Linked DNA regions of Homo sapiens. The protein of the gene in region 2 interacts with the protein of the main gene of each other region in a pairwise test. Each region holds a gene or a part of one and is shown on either strand. Other genes may lie near its edges. The genes, in order: PLCG2 and FSBP.

Region 1 (3,825 bases), on a different chromosome or scaffold from region 2:
TGAGTGGCCAGCGATGCCTTGCCACTAGAACCTTCTCCTAAAACTCATCCTGATTGACATGAGACAGGATTTTGGTTCCTGAAGTTCATGCCCTGTTAACTAAACCCCTTTCAGTACTAAAATCAGTTCACTCTTTAATTCTGCCCTTTCAGCTTCCTGATTTCTCCCGATTCCTTCCTTCTCCCTGGAGCGGCCGACAATGTCCACCACGGTCAATGTAGATTCCCTTGCGGAATATGAGAAGAGCCAGATCAAGAGAGCCCTGGAGCTGGGGACGGTGATGACTGTGTTCAGCTTCCGCAAGTCCACCCCCGAGCGGAGAACCGTCCAGGTGATCATGGAGACGCGGCAGGTGGCCTGGAGCAAGACCGCTGACAAGATCGAGGGCTTCTGTGAGTACTCGCTGGGTGGGGCAGTGTGGCCCGTCCTCTGGGGCCCTGGCCTGAGCACCTGTCCACCTTCCTGTCTTGTCATTACTGTGATTGTTGTTGGTTTGATGTGTTCTTTTATTCGTCTTAAAATGAAAGCATTGCCAGTTTGTGTGGATCTCTGATGAGGTTTACACCAGGTGGAGGAAGTTCAGCTGGGAAAACTCTGGTGAAAGAACTGAAGCTGAGGTCAGCCAACATGGAAATGGCATTCAGGCAGCTCTCCTTGCCTGGTGGTTCTGTGCCCTGTCTGACAGCATCAGGGATCGTCTGGTTCCCACAACTGGTCGAGTCATCTTTCCTCTTAAGGGCGAATTAGCCCAAGCCTGCAGAAACTCATAGCTTGGTCGCCAAATGCTACCTTGTTTTACTGCATACCATAGCAGTGAGGGGCCTTTGCTTTAGTCTCCAAGCAGGGAGAGTGAGTTGTTGAACGTTTTGTAGCTTTCAAATGCAGGTCTGGTCTTGGTAGAGGTGTCCCTCCTCCCCTACCTCCGTTTGATTGGGCAGCTGGTTCAGATCCTAAAGTTTCTAAGACTGTTTTTAACAAATAGAGTAAAGGCACTTAAGCAATTTTCAGTTGCAAATATTTGCTCTAATTTGTGTTTTTAAATTAACTAGTTTTTAATTGAAATATATATTCCTGGGGGTTAAGGAGTCAACTCAAATATTTCTCCTCCCTAAACCATCCTACTGAGGCAAGCTCATTACCAGTTACTTTTATCTTCCAAAATAGTCTATGCTTGCATAATGTGTGGGTTTAAAAAGAAAACAATTGGGAACTCTTGTACACTTCTGCACCTTGACTTCTTTTTGTTAATTAATAATGATGTTGGCGGTGGTTTCTTATCAGCACACATTGATCTCATTCTTTCTTGGACACATGACATGTAATGGCACAGGCCTCAATGTAACAGTTTAACTCCAGAGAAGGGCATTTCATGCTATTTCCAGGCTTTTGTTATTATTCGAAGTGACTATCATTGTACTCTTTTTTTTTTAAAACAAAATTAATTTTTTTGAGACAAGGTCTCTTTCTTTTACCCAGGCTGGAGTGCAATGGCATGATCATGGCTCACTGCAGCCTCAGCCCCCTGGGCTCAAGTGATCTTCCTGCCTCAGTCTCCCAAGTAGCTGGGACCATGGGAATGCACCGCCATGCCTGGATAATTTAATTTTTTTTTTTTTTTTTTGTAGAGATGGGATCTCACTATGTCCAGGCTTGTCTCCAATTCCTGTGCTCAAGTGATCCTCCCTCCTTGGCCTCCCAAAGCATTGGGATTACAGGCATGAGCCACCTCACCCAGCCTTGCACTCTTTTTTTTTTTTTTTATAATAGATTGATTGAGACATAATTCACATAGTATACATAGAATTCACCCATTGTATGCAGCATGTATAGTGTGGTGGTTTTAGTATATTTATATAAATGTGCAAGCACCACTCCAATCAAAAGTAGAACCTTTATATCACCTCAAGATGAAACCCCATACCTTTCACCATCACCCCATCCCCTCATCCCCCCTACCAGACGTAAGCAACCGTTAAATTTAATTCTGTTTCTATAAACCTCTCTATTCTGGACATTTCATAGAAATGGATCCTATGTATGTGGGCTTTTGTGACTGGCTTCTTTGACTCAGCATTTTTCAAGGTTCATCCACTTTGTTGCGTGGATCAGAAATTTTCCTTTTTGTGGCAGAATCACGATACGTTGTATGGGTATTCCACAGTTTATTCAGTCATCTGTTGACGGACCCTTGGGTTGTTGCCACCTTTTGGCTAATATAAATAGTGCTGCTAAGAATGTTTCTCTACAAGTTTTTGTGTGGATGTCTGTTTTTATTTGTTTTGGGTATATACCTAGGAGTGGAATTGCTGGGTCATACACTAACTCAGTTTCATCATTTTAGGAACTGTCAGACTGTTTTCTAAAGTGGCTGCACCATTTATATTCCTTCCAGTGGTAGAAAAGGGTGATCGTTGCATTATTCTTCATTTGTATATATGGGTATATCTGAAGGACAGCTTCCTGAAGGTTTATTTCTGAGCTGAAGGATATGGCATATATATATTTTAATAGACAGAGTCTCGCTCTGTTGCCCAGGCTGGAGTGCAGTAGTACAATGTCAGCTCACTGCAAGCTCCGCCTCCCGGATTCATGCCATTCTCCTGCCTCAGCCTCCCGAGTAGCTGGGACTACAGGCGCCCGCCACCACGCCCGGCTAATTTTTTGTATTTTTAGTAGAGACGGGGTCTCACTGTGTTAGGCAGGATGGGGGTATGGCATATTTTAACTTTAAAGGGAAGTTTGGCAGCACCCCACAAAAGAGGTTGCCCCCACTGTCTGTTTCAGCCACAGGATGTAAAAGTACCTGTTGCCTGAACCCTCATCTATGCTGCGTGGCTGCTGAACTTGGCCATCCACAGGTAGACTTTGGTAGCTTGGTGTCATCCTTAATTTGATGTATCCTATCATGAGTGTGATCAAACTGCTTTCTGAAAGGCTTTTCCTGGTTTTGGAGCCCAGTGGGTCTCTTGTGGCACAGAGCCAGAGCCCTGCTTTGGAACTGCCCATGTGGAGGTGGCCATCTTCCCTCTTGACTGTTTGCATTGGCCGGCTCCACCCCCAGGTGGCCCAGAAACCTGTTGCAGCTGGGGTGGCCACCCTCCCTTCCCCCACAAGGGGTGAGAGGGTTGGCACTGATGGTAAATACAGATGGGCCACGTTGAGACTGGACTGCAGGTTGTTCCTTTCTCTTCTCAACCTGCCCATCCCAAACCTAGCTGCCCATCAGAAACACCCAGGGGGGATCTTGTAAGTATAGGGTATTAACCATGGCATGTGTATACACCTGTGTAACAAACCTGCATGCTCTTCACATGTATCCCGGAACTTAAAGTAAAATAAAATAAAATAAATATATACAAAAAAGAAATTACAGGGTATTAGAACCTTCTTCTGAAGCTCATTGTGATGGGCATGAGACAGGATTTTGGCTTGAAATCTATGCCCTGTCATTCTCCCCTTCTGCTGAGTAATACCATTTCACTCGCTTACGCGGATGCGCTCTCTCGCTCTCTGTTTTAGAGACAGGGTCTTGCTCTGTTGCCCAGGCTAGAGAGCAATGGCCTGATCATGGTTCACTATAGTTGTGAACTCCTGGGCTCAAGTGATCCTCCTGCCCAGTCTCCCAAGTAGCTGAGACTACAGGTGAGTGCCACCATGCCTGGCTGATTTTTTAACTTTTGTGTAGATAGGGTCTTGCTATGTTGCCGAGGCTGGTCTCCAACTCCTGGCCTCAAGTGATCCTCCCACCTTGGTCTCCGAAAGTGCTGGGATTACAGACAGGAACTACCATGCCCGGCCTCAATTCATTCTTTTATTTATCTGTTC
Region 2 (3,689 bases):
CACCCCCAGGGTTTCTAATTCACTTGGAAATGGATTTACATTTCTAACAAGTTCTCAAGTGATGCTGATGCTGCTGGTCAGGACCCATACTTGGAAAACCATTGGTCTACTCCAAAGGCCACAAAGTGGAAGCCCAATGGCTCAGTGAGGCCCACTCACATGTTGTCTGTATAATGTTTTAAAAGCATTTTGTGTTATTTGCAAACATTTTAAAATTGGAAGATTCCTCATTAAAAAATGCAGATTTCTGGTTTATCCCCGCATGTGAAAATTCTGCTGGAGCTAAACAGCAGCTACCCTACCTAGTCCAGGGAGATGTCCTTCCTAGTCCAGGATACTACAGCCCAAATTGACTCTCTCTACATTCACTTAAAATCAATGGCTTAGCACTGCATTTGTGCTTATATACTCAATCCACTTTTTCCCATTCTTTTGTCTTTTTTCCAGCGTCTCACTCTTGACTTCAAACACCCATGGTCCCCTTCACTGCTGAAATTACACCCACCCCATTCTACAACTTGGCTTAAAAATCCCTTCTCAACAAAACCCCAGCAAAAATAGAAATTCTTAAGTAACATACATATTAGAGATTTAATATAAATTTAATATGTATGCTTTAAGAATTGAGGTTTTATTTCCATGAATACTAAAATAACAATACTTATAAAATACATAAAATTTTAATTTTGTTCATTCTGATTTTTACTGTGAAAGAAATTTTTTCCAGAACAGGACATTCAAAATGAATTAAGACATGTCTTTAAATCACACAGCCAAAATATATAATAGCTTCAATGGAATACCTTATCTATTTTGCTGGAACAAAAATAGAGAGAGAATGGGGGTAATTGATGTAATTATCCTGATTTCACAACCTAACAATCTTTAAAGGCAATTTTAATGAAAGAAATGCTTCTAATATTTAAATCTAGAGAATGTTTTAGTGGATATTTACTTCTATCGAATAGCGGGATGGAAATTACACAAAGAAAAACTAAGTGCTGGTCTCTGCTCTGCCATAAATAGCTTTGTTACCCTAAGTAAGTCATTGAGTTCTCCCTGGACCTGTTTCATTACCCCTAAACTGCAGAGATGGAAAAAAAGTGTTCTCCAAATATCTTCCATCTCTAAAATCCTAGGATTTACTCCTTCAAAAGATAAAAGCATAAAAACCAATGTCATACAGACAAGCTTCTTGGTATTAGGTTAGTATAGCTCCTAAATTAGACTGACTTAAAAATCTCTAATTATAGCTTTCAAAGTTCTAACTAAAAATGTTGAAGACTCAGAACTTTGAAAGAATATGTGTTTGTATATGCATTTGTGTATATCTTAGTGATCAGAATAAAATATCTTTTGTAAGGTCAACAATTAAACTTAGGGAAAAAAAAAAGAAGACAATAAAAACTATAACCATGCCAACCAACCAGTAAATTTTAATATCTCAAAAGAAAATAATTAGAAAATTATATCTAAAAAGTTTTTCCATAATAGAGATTAACAACATTTTTCAAGAACGTGTATTCTGTTTCAGGATATTCCCAAATTAAAGTAATTTGGCCAAAATCAAAATTATCAAATTGCAAGATTGAAAAAAAAACTTAGAGACTGTTATATTCAGGTAGATCATGCCGTAAGCGAATTGCTTTCAGCTTCTCCACTTCAATTTTTGCTCTTAGTAGCTCTTCCTCTAGCTGCTGCCTTCTTTTCAATCCATCCCTCTTCTCCTGAACATACAATCCAAAATTTTTTTGATTTTCTAAAATTATCTGATGCTCCTCTTTCAACATTTGCAGGATCTGAGGATCATACCCTAATAGTGACCTAAAGTGTTCACCACTCTCATGCCGAAAAAAATCATCTCTCCTTGGAATAGAAGATGGAGACGATGTCATTCTCATATCAACAGAGGAAAGTGAAGGCGACAAGGATCTTTCCATAACATGTACTAATTCATGTTCTTCTCTTTGCTCTAAAGTATCACTCTGTTGAGAATTTAAAACCAGTGGAGGAGGTGGTTTAATGTCTTCTTCTTGCTTCACCTCCACTGTAATAGCAACAGGATGGTGATCCAACATTACCTGTAGTGAACTGGTACCAGCCTGTGCCTCCTCATCCAAGTTTGCACTATAGCACACAAAAAAGCATTATAATATGTAAATCAAATGAAGAAAAAGTGTATATTTATAGCATAATTTTAATTTAATGTACATTAAATGATAAAGCTTTAAAACTATAAAGTTACAAAATAAAAAAAAATCTTAAACACTTGAAATACATTAAAGTGACTAAGATTGGGATTTCAATAATACATACTCACAGATCTCCCCCATCCTTAACTTTAAAATTGTGCTTTAAAGGAGCAGGAAATTACAAATATTATAGAAGGCCAATGAAGAAAATAAAAAGAAAAGCCAGTTTTCATGTTGTCAAACAGACACCAATCTTTCCCACAACCCTAAGGTTTTCAAATGGTGTACAGAGCCATTTAATGCATTCTCAGTCTTGTTATCCCCATACCTTAGCCCTAGACCTCAGGCTTCTGCTCTCCTGGACTGATCTTAAAACCATGAAGGCCCATAACTTATAAAAGGACAGTGAAAGGCCATCTATGGGAGGTACTGATTTCTGCATTTGCCCAAAAAATAAAACATAAAGATTGTATATGGCTTTGGGATATGCTCAACTACTGGAGGTTATCCTAACTTTCTTATTTCAGATGCTTTTATCTGATAGGAAAAACTTCCGTTTTACCTATTCTGAACCATATGACTCAGATGCTGTTTAAGTCTTTCAATCACTGGTCAGGTAAAGTTCACAAGAGCAATGGTTTTAATCCACAACTGTATACTCAGTACCTAGCAGGTACTGTACTTAGAACCTAGTAGGTGCTCATTATGTGTTGAATGACTGAAAAAAAACAAACTAAATGATTTTTTAATGAAACATTTTTAATGGCCTATACAGATATATTAAAGGTTTATTAAATTTACACATAATTTCCACCAAATATGCATTCCCAATGGAGACAACTACAGCTTTAGCATAATTTAAGCTTCAGCATAACAAGTTATGATATTATAAATGCAATAAACCTTAAAATTCTGTTTTATAAACATAATTTTATGTATAACGTGAAGCTGTGAATTAAGAATATCTGCTCCTTGAGGTTGTTTTTTTTAATTTATGCTTCTGCCTAACTTAAAAATAAAAGTTATAAAGGGAAATTAGATCATTGAACATGAATGGAAATACTTTATTTAATATTATTTAGAGAAGATTTTACATATAATAAGAAACATAATTAAAAGAATACATTCTACATGGATGATTAAAATGCTGGAACAAGTTCAAGCAGAATGCATAGAAAAAGATTAAAACTACCCATACGTTACTTACTAATGCCATTAAATTGCCAGAAATATCAGATATTTATCTAAGAGACAAAATGAAACATATATAGTATATAATAAAAAATCTATTTGTAGGTTATATAAATTCATTTTTGTTCTTGTCTCTGTTTGTGTCATTTTATTATTTCCAAAAACAAAACAATTAATTATAAATGTAATTCAAAGTAGCAAGCTCTGCTTCTATTAATAGCTCTGCTAAAACCTGGAATGGGAAAAGGCTAAAATTGCATATGAAAATTAAGTTTTTAAAACCACATAATTACTATTTCAAATTAG

The links.
Region 1: the proteins of FSBP (region 2) and PLCG2 interact in a two-hybrid assay, tested with the Homo sapiens proteins (one large-scale study listed by IntAct).

Annotation. Positions count from the first base shown.
Region 1 is NC_000016.10:81,785,791-81,789,615, forward strand, and holds part of PLCG2 (1-phosphatidylinositol 4,5-bisphosphate phosphodiesterase gamma-2), read left to right. Parts: intron 1-152; 5' UTR 153-199; coding exon 200-392; intron 393-3,825. UniProt on the Homo sapiens protein: The production of the second messenger molecules diacylglycerol (DAG) and inositol 1,4,5-trisphosphate (IP3) is mediated by activated phosphatidylinositol-specific phospholipase C enzymes. It is a crucial enzyme in transmembrane signaling.
Region 2 is NC_000008.11:94,430,530-94,434,218, forward strand, and holds part of FSBP (fibrinogen silencer-binding protein), read right to left. Parts: intron 2,128-3,689; coding exon 1,602-2,127; 3' UTR 1-1,601. UniProt on the Homo sapiens protein: Transcriptional repressor that down-regulates the expression of the fibrinogen gamma chain. Represses transcription of GSK3B gene promoter via its interaction with APBA1.